Regions from separate parts of the Homo sapiens genome. Here regions 2 and 3 are each linked to region 1. A link means that fine-mapping ties the variant in region 1 to the plasma level of a protein whose gene starts in the linked region. Region 1 holds a variant in brackets. A gene starts in each other region. All regions are shown on their forward strands.

Region 1 (2,709 bases):
CGAGTGCGTGAGAGCCACGTGTTCCAGGTGTGTGCGAGCAAGTGCGACCGTGCCAGTGTGTGTGAGCGTGTGTGGGAGGGAGCCTGTGGGAGCGTGATGGAGAGCGTGTGAATGTGTGTGCATGTGTGGCCGAGTGTGAGGGCACATGTGACTGAATGGGTGATGGCGAGCACGCCTGTGAATGTGTGAATCTGAGTGTCTATGGGAGCATGACAGTGTGAGAGTTTGTGACTGTGTATGTGAGCGTGAATGGTTGTGACTGTGTGTGAGAGCGTTTCCTGCACCCTTTCCTCCCATGCCCACCCCGCCTGCAGCTGCCTCTGTCCCCACCCTTCCGGGCAGGTGGAGCTGGAGGAGGGCCGTCGCTTCCAGCTGATGCAGCAGCAGACCCGGGCCCAGACGGCCTGCCGCCTGCTCTCCTACCTGCGGGTCAACGTACTCAACGGGCTCCTGGTGGTTGGGGCCATCAGCGCCATCTTCTGGGCTACCAAGTACTCACAGGACAACAAGGAGGTGTCAGGCAACTGCATTCATTTAATCCTGGCCAGAACTGCGGGGGTGAGACAGGATGATCCCATTTTACAGATGAGGAAACCGAGGCTCAGAGAGGTTCAATCGGTCGTGGCCACAGGTCACGGCCAAGGCAGGCGGGCTCCCACTGGATATTCCCGCCAACTGCCAGGCTGCTGCAGGGAATAGCTTACAGGCGACCCTATTCTGGGCCTGCCCCAGAGTTACACTTTAGGGCACTGTGGGGGGCGGGGAGCAGACAGGGGCCCCCCAGCACGCGGGCTCCCCTGACCTGCCTTTTCCC[G/T]CAGGAGTCCCTGTTTCTGCTGCTCCAGTACCTGCCCCCTGGGGTCATCGCCCTGGTCAACTTCCTGGGTCCCCTGCTGTTCACATTTCTGGTCCAGCTGGAGAACTACCCTCCCAACACGGAGGTCAACCTCACTCTGATCTGGTGAGTGCCACCCTTGGTGGGGACAAGTGGGCATGTAACAAGTCTGCATCCTGCTGCTCTCTTTTGGTTGTCACCTGGCACCTGGGGTCCCCAGCTGAGAGGCTTCCCCCTTCACTAGTGGCCCAAGGGAAGGCAGGTACACACCTCACAGCACACGACCTCAGGGCCCCAGGTCTAAGGCTTTCCAATCCCCCACCTCCAAAGGAAGCCGCCAGTCTGGACCAAGCTCCGGCCATTCAGTGGAGCAAGGGACTGTGGCCAGGGGTGCTGGGAATGGGCTTTGCACACAGGAAAACCAGCAACACGGGACATGCAGAGCTTCTACATGCCGAGGGTTTACTCCCCTTACCTGGACAACCCTCACGTGACCCGTGAAGTCCAGACCATCCTCATCCCCCTTGAGGGATGAGGAAACTGAGGTTCACATGAGTGAAGCGCCCAGCCAAAGTCAAGCTCATCGTGCCTGCCAGGTGCAAGTTCAAAAGCAAGCCCTCGACCTCCTGGGCTCAAGCGATCCTCCCGCCGGAGCAGCTGGGACTACCACTCCCAGGTTCTGCCATCTTCTGTCTCAGCACTTAGGTCCTGTCTAGACCCCCTACTTCTCCACCCCTCATCCAGCTGCAGAAATTCTTGTGTAAAGCCCACCTGAGCTCCCACTGGCTTCTCTCCCTCACGCCACCCTCAGTCACCACTTGCCCTAACTGCTTTTCCCTCTGCTTCCTCAAAGTCAGCTGTGTTTGGTTTGCTTTGAAACTTTATTTTTTGAGGCCGGGCATGGTGGCTCACGCCTGTAATCCCAGAACTTTGGGAGGCCAAGGTGGATCACCTGAGGTCAGGAGTTCGAGACCAGCCTGGCCAACATGGTGAAACCCTGTCTCTACTAAAAACACAAAAATCAGCCAGGTGTGGTGGTGCACACCTGTAATCCCAGCTACCCGGGAAGCTGAGGCAGGAGAATCACTCGAACCCAGGAGACAGATGTTGCAGTGAGCAGAGATTGCGCCACTACACTCCAGCCTGGGTGACAGAGTGTGACTTCATCTCAAAAAAGAAAACAAAACAAAAAAAGCTCTCACCTACCCCTAGCTCCCTCAACAGGAGAACCACTGTTCCCAGCCACTCTGTAGCCCCATATCAGCAGTGGGAATGTTCACCCTTAGAGATAACACGCAACCAGGCACAGTGACTCACGCCTGTAAAGGCCAACACTTTGGAAGGCCAAGATGGGAGAATCACTTGATCCCAGGAGTTTGAGACCGGCCTGGGCAACATGGCAAGACCCCGTCTCTACAAAAAATACAAAAAAATTAACTGGGCATGATGAAAGACTAGGACACACAGTCCTAGCTACTAGAGAAGCTGAGGTGGGAGGATCACTTAAGCCCAGGAGGTCAAGGCTACAGGGAGCTGTGATCGCGTCACTGCACTCCAGCCTAGGCAATGGAGTGAGACCCTATCTCAAAAAAAAAAAGCAAAAACAGATAACATGCATGTGATGATGTTTCGTTTAGACAATCACCTATTTGGTCTGGTCATGCATTGTGCAGTACATATGTGTGGCACGTGTTTATGACATGCAAGCTTGTGTCAGTGGGCTTCAATGTCCATAGGCGGCGGAGGAAAGGAGGAGCTCGCCTGCAGTCAGGATCCTGAAAAGGCCACAGGCTTCTCCACCGCAGGGCTTGCTGCATGTGCCTCTCCACACCAGGCATGAGGGAACATGGCTGGACTGTGCAGTGTTTCTCAAACTG
Region 2 (2,715 bases), not on the chromosome of region 1:
TAACAGCCCCGCCCCACCCCCAGGGCCCAGCAGGTGGGACCTGGGGCCACATGACCCCTCCCCCACCAGCCCCTGCCCTGCCCAGCTCACCCAGTGCGAGTAGATCCGTGCAGTTGTCGCCTCTGCTCATGGCTGCAGATGTGAGAGTCCACAAGCACACTGCTCTGAGCCGAGGGTCAGCCTGGTTCATGGCCTGACGGTTTCCACAGCACTTCTTACTCCCATCCCTCCTCAGGCCCGTACCCCGCAGCTCAGCATCCCCAATACTGGTGGTGGCAAAGTCTCTGGTTTCCGGGGAGGAAGGGGGAGGGGAGGGATGAAAAAAAGAACAAAGACCCCGCCCTGTGCCTGCACCTGCGCCACTCCTGCAGCTCCTGAGCTTCCCCCACCCTCGCTGCCCAGGCCCTTTGCCCCCCTTGAGAAGAGAAGCAGGCCTGTGGGTAATGTGCCACGGGCAGTTGAGTCCCTGAGGACTCTGAGGGCGGGGGGTGGGGGCAGAAGTGGTGTGAAGCAGGACTAACAAGGACAGGAACACCCCTTCTGCTCCAGGATGCCCACCTTCCTCCCTGACTCTGGTCCCAGAAGAAAGATGTATTCCTCAATGAGTATGGTATAAAGTGGAAGGGTCGGGGGAGCCTCCTGGTACCTCTGATCCCATCACACCCTAAGGCTGATCTGAGAGGATATGTGTTTAGATGATGCTTGTTATTGTTTCATTGGGGGCATTATAATTTGGGGGACACCCCCAAACCTCCCCTTTCAACCCACTTCATCCAAACTGTCTGTAAGAACTGTCACTCTCAATAATTAATTGCATTTTAAAACTCTTTGCTGTAGGACTGTCCTGGGAAACTGAGCCCTATCTTGCACATGTTCACTTCAGCGGGTGTAGTACCTGCCATACCTAGAGCTAACTCCATCACGTGCAAGGCTATTGATGTAGGAAGAGGGATTTTAAGTTGCAAATATAAACCTGAGACCAGAAGTCAGAGATGTGTTTTGTCTAGCCCATACAACATTTTTTAAAAGTTTAAAATCAGTGCAGTGGCATGCCAACAATAGGGATGGCAGAAGTCCTGCCCCTTGAGTTGCAGGCAATAAGGGGGTGCATTGTCTGTAGAGAATTTAAAAAATAAAAATCAGTCCTCTTATTATCACCATGTTCCAGAAATTCTGAAAAAAAAAATCAGTGATAAAATTATCCTCCCTGAAAAATATTTTATGGATCTAAGTTTTATATTTTTTTTGAGACAGGGTCTTACTTTGTCTCCCAGGTTGGAGTGCAGTAACACAATCTCAGCTCACTGCAGCCTTGACGATCTCCCGGGCTCAAGTGATCCTCCCATCTCAGCCACCTAAGCAGCTAGGACTACAGGCATGTGCCACCACACCCAGCTAATCTAGTTCATTTTTTGTAGAGATAGGTCTCCCTGTGTTGCCAGGCTGGTCTCAACTCCTGACCTCAAGCAACCTGCCCACCTCGGTCTCCCAAAGTGCTGGAATTACAGGCATGAGCCACTGCGCCCAGCCCAGATCTAACTTTTAAATTGCTGTAGTGGACCAGGTGCAGTGGCTCATTCCTGTAATACCAGCACTTTGGAGGCCAAGGCAGCAGGAGGATTGCTTGAGGCCAGGAGTTCAAAACCAGTCTGAGCAATATAGTGAGACCCTCCATCTCTACCAAAAAACAAACAAAAACAGTAGACAGGCCTGATGACACAAGCGTGTAGTCCTAGCTACTTGGGAGACTGAGGTGGGAGGATCACTTGAGCCCAGGAGTTGGAGGCTGCAGGGAGCTATGATTATGCCACTGCACTCCAGCCTGGGCGACAGACGGAGAGACCCTGTCTCTACAGTAGATGCACAAATACCATTGTCTTACAACTGCCTACAGTATTCAGTATGGTAACATGCTGTAAGCATTGGGGCCTAGGAGCACCAGGCTATACCATGTAGCCTAGATGGGTAATAGGCTACACCATCTAGGTTTGTGAAAATACACTCTATGATGTTTGCACAATGACAAAATTGCCTAGTGACTCATTTCTCAGAACATATCCCTGTTGTTAAGCAATGCATGGCTGTTTTTATGCTGACATGATTATATTTACAAAGTTCAAGGAAAGAAAATATTCACTGAGTTTATTTCTTGGCCCTTATTATTCATTTTATAATTGCCATTGAGAATAATTTTGTCATATAAAGAATGTTTAAATTTGTTTTAATTTTATTTATTTATTTATCTGAGATGGAGTCTCCCTCTGTCGCTCAGACCAGACCGCAGTGGCACAATCTCGGCTCACTTGCCCAGGCTGGAGAGAAGTGGCGTGCCTGGCCATAAAGCATTTTTTTAAATGATCCACTTGAAAAATAAAACTTTGTTCCAGGCATGGTGGCTCATGCCTGCAATTCCAGCACGTTGGGAGGGTGAGGCAAGAGGATCGCTTGAGCCCAGGAGTTCAAGAACAGCTTGGGCAACATGGCAAAACCCCGTCTTTACCAAAAATACAAAAAATTAGCCAGGTGTGATGGTGCACGCCTGTGGTCCCAGCTACTCGAGAGGCTGAGGTGGGAGGATTGCTTGAGCCTAGGAGGTAGAGGTTTCAGTGAGCCAAGATCAAGCCTCTGCACTCCAGCCTGGGCAACAGAGTGAGACCCTGCCCCCCACCCCCAAAAAAAGAAAGAAAACAAGAAAAATTTGGGTCTGGGCATGGT
Region 3 (2,757 bases), not on the chromosome of region 1:
ATTTTAAAAGATGGTTTACAATATTTTTGTGGTGTTTTGTATTAGGAGAATTCTTCAGCATCTGCTGTCTACCATATTGTCAGAAATGGAGTCTAGCCATCCTTCCCGGCCCATTTCAAACGGGTTCCTCTTAGGACCAGGAGACCTCACATTATGTGTGTCCTACCTTGGCCTGTGGTTTGGTCACTTGTGTGTGTGTGAACTTCATCCTCCTTGAGGGCAGGAATATGGTTTCCTCTCTTTCACTTCCACAGAGTCCTGTCCAGAGTTCTGCACACCAAGACTGTGTAAATGAATGGAATTGCATCTGGGAGCTCGAGGCACCCATGCAAACCTGTGCTGCCAGTGACTTCCACCAGAGGGCAGCGGCAGCAGGTGCCGGCGCTGGGGCAGGACTGGGAGGAGTCTCACTCTGGGGGCGCCTGGTTCCCCGTGGCTCTAATACTTGCCGCATCAAATGCATACACCCACATTTAGGACCGAACCCAATGGAGGAGGACCGCTCCTCATTCCACATGTTGGGGAAATGAAGACAAGCAAGGATGCAGGAAGTGGAGGGCCAGGAGAGGTGGACCTGGGATGGGACCAATTGAGGCAGGGCCAGGATTTGGAACCAAACCCCTTCTGGATTTGACCACTTCCAGGGCCCTGCTTGGACAACCAAATTATCTATTCCTTTTCTCATTCAATAAACATTTATTCACCTCCTACCATATGCTCCACAGGGAGTACCATGGGAATTAAACACGCTTGGCCCCTGCCTTCTTCCTATAGCGTCAGTCTGCTGCAGTGCAATGGGGCAACTCGGGGTTTCTCAGGCAGCCCTGGGCTTCCTTCCTTCAGCCCTTTGCTCCTGCTATTCCTTCTGGCCCAGAGGCCTCCCATGATTGCTGTTTGTCAAAATCCTGCTCAGCCTTGTAGACCCAGCTCCCATGCCTGACTCCCACGGAGGCATGCCCAGTCTGGTACCTGGAGATGGGATAGCTGGCCCCACTGTGCCATCTGACGGGGCGGCTCCCACAAGGCCTTGGCACCCTTCCCTGTAGAAGGACTTGTGGGATGGCCATCTCTCAGGCCCTTCCCAATTTATATTTCTCTGAGGGGAGACTTAGGCTCTTATCTCCAAAAGTGCATCAAGACCACACCCTCCTTCCCAACCACCATTGCACCTAAGGTTAAGATAAAACTCAGGATTTAATCCAAGAGAGCCAAATTACACGGACCGGGACAGGCAATGGGTCATTCACTCCCTCTTCCAATATGTACTGATTGAGCAGCTACTACATTATCAATTTTTTCTTCTGGGCCACCAGAAATGAGGCATGGCTCTTCCACTTCCCTTCTTCTTAGAAGACCCTCGGGGAAGTGTGTCTGCATGGATGCGTGTGCATGCGTGTGTCTGGCTCCGTGACTCTTGGGGTGCAGCCTGGATGGGTGGGCTCCCAGCACAGGCAGCTGGGGCTCTCCCCACCAGCCCCTGTAACAGCAGCCCAGCTTCCTGCAGACCAAAACCACAAGCAGAACAAGCAGGCGTGAGACACTCACAGGTTGGGTTTGATCGCATGCGTGTCGGAGAGGAGAGAGCAGAGAGAGACACAGGAACAAGAACAGCAAAGGGTAGAGCAGACCTGCGCCAGGGGCGCACAACGGCCGTGTCCACCTCCCGGCCCCAAGATGGTGCTTCCCACAGGCAGCCACGCGTAGCAGCCAGAGACAGCTCCAGACATGTGGCTCTTCTTCGGGATCACTGGATTGCTGACGGCAGCCCTCTCAGGTAGGCCCCCTTCCCTCATCTCCTGCCACTGGTGCTGGAGGAGCCGGGTCCGGCCCTCTCAGTCCCCTTTCTGGTTGTTTCCTTGTGGTCACTTTTCTAGGATCTTTTAGCCAAGACTACACTCAGGTACCAGGGAGGTCCAGCATCTGGGGCTAGGAGAGGACACAGGAGCCCCTCGAGGGGCTGGGGCTGTGCCTGGAAGCCTCCTGGAGTGACAGAATGTGGGAAGCATGCTTTGTGCCTTACCAATGGGTCCCTAGGGTGTGAGGAGGGAGGTGCCTCTCCCATCCTTAAGCTCAGGAACTCCCCCATTTCCTATTTCTTGCCAACTCTTAAGAAGGAACCGTTCACCTTCCAGAGAGGCAGGACCACTGATGGTGGTACTTTCAACGCCAAAGCTGAGGCTTGGGGTCCAGCAGGCGTAGGCCAATCACAGGAGAGCACCTCCCGAAACAGGACTCAGGGAAGCCAGGGAGAGTTCTGGACAACCAGGCGCTGATGGCCTCAGCACAACCAGCTGGGGTAGTCTAGGGCATAAGCGAGCATGAAGGCCACCCCCACGTCTCAAGCTGCCCCCAAGTGTCAAGGCACCTGGCCACCTGGGCCAGGGAATCAGATGGCCAGAAGGTTTGGGGCACTAGACTGTGCTCCCCAGATACTTGCTGGCCCCTGTTGAGTGCAGGGTCCAAGCTGGCCAGAGCGGGGCAGGGGCCTGGAGATGCAAGAGATCCTGACCCCATCGAGCTCTCACATTTTGGGATTTGGGAAGACTGGTATGGAAACAGAATTCGGGCCAGGGGAGTCTGGGTCCACCTTGCAGCCAGAGAGCCAAGTGCTTTCATTTTGTGATGGAGGAGACCCAGGAAGACCCAGTCAGGAGGGGGCATCGAGCTGGTTTGGAGGACTGGGTACATGTCGCGAGACTCTGGGCAGGGAGTGCTCTCCTCTCTGCCTTGATCTCCAGGCATGTGTTCCGAGCCTGT

Alleles and levels. Alleles are on the strand shown, and positions count from the first base shown. The strength of an association depends on the size of the effect and on how common the allele is.
As copies of T replace G in region 1, the plasma level of the protein whose gene starts at base 268 in region 2 goes up (weak association).
In carriers of allele G in region 1, the plasma level of the protein whose gene starts at base 1,540 in region 3 tends to be lower than with T alone (weak association).

What was found. PIP is the chance, under the fine-mapping model, that this variant and not a neighbour inherited with it causes the effect. Protein levels are from antibody-based Olink assays in UK Biobank. Linkage for the fine-mapping came from a reference panel and not from the study's own genotypes, which makes the PIPs less certain.
Region 2: it holds the start of SIT1, and the variant in region 1 is fine-mapped to the plasma level of the SIT1 protein (UK Biobank, PIP 0.98).
Region 3: it holds the start of CD6, and the variant in region 1 is fine-mapped to the plasma level of the CD6 protein (UK Biobank, PIP above 0.99).

What each region holds. Positions count from the first base shown.
Region 1 is chr17:78,134,052-78,136,760 of GRCh38, forward strand. TMC8 (transmembrane channel like 8) reads left to right here. Exons shown (of 16, transcript NM_152468.5): 8 at 343-513; 9 at 819-958. Among named protein-coding and RNA genes, the nearest start is that of TMC8, 4.6 kb to the left of the region's middle. RefSeq lists enhancers at 1-216, 217-742, 457-566. The variant G/T (reference allele first, on the strand shown) is at 815.
Region 2 is chr9:35,650,664-35,653,378 of GRCh38, forward strand. It overlaps SIT1 (signaling threshold regulating transmembrane adaptor 1), which reads right to left and starts at 268. Exons shown (of 5, transcript NM_014450.3): 1 at 91-268. The coding sequence starts at 190. RefSeq lists a silencer at 1-48.
Region 3 is chr11:60,970,141-60,972,897 of GRCh38, forward strand. It overlaps CD6 (CD6 molecule), which reads left to right and starts at 1,540. Exons shown (of 13, transcript NM_006725.5): 1 at 1,540-1,774. The coding sequence starts at 1,726.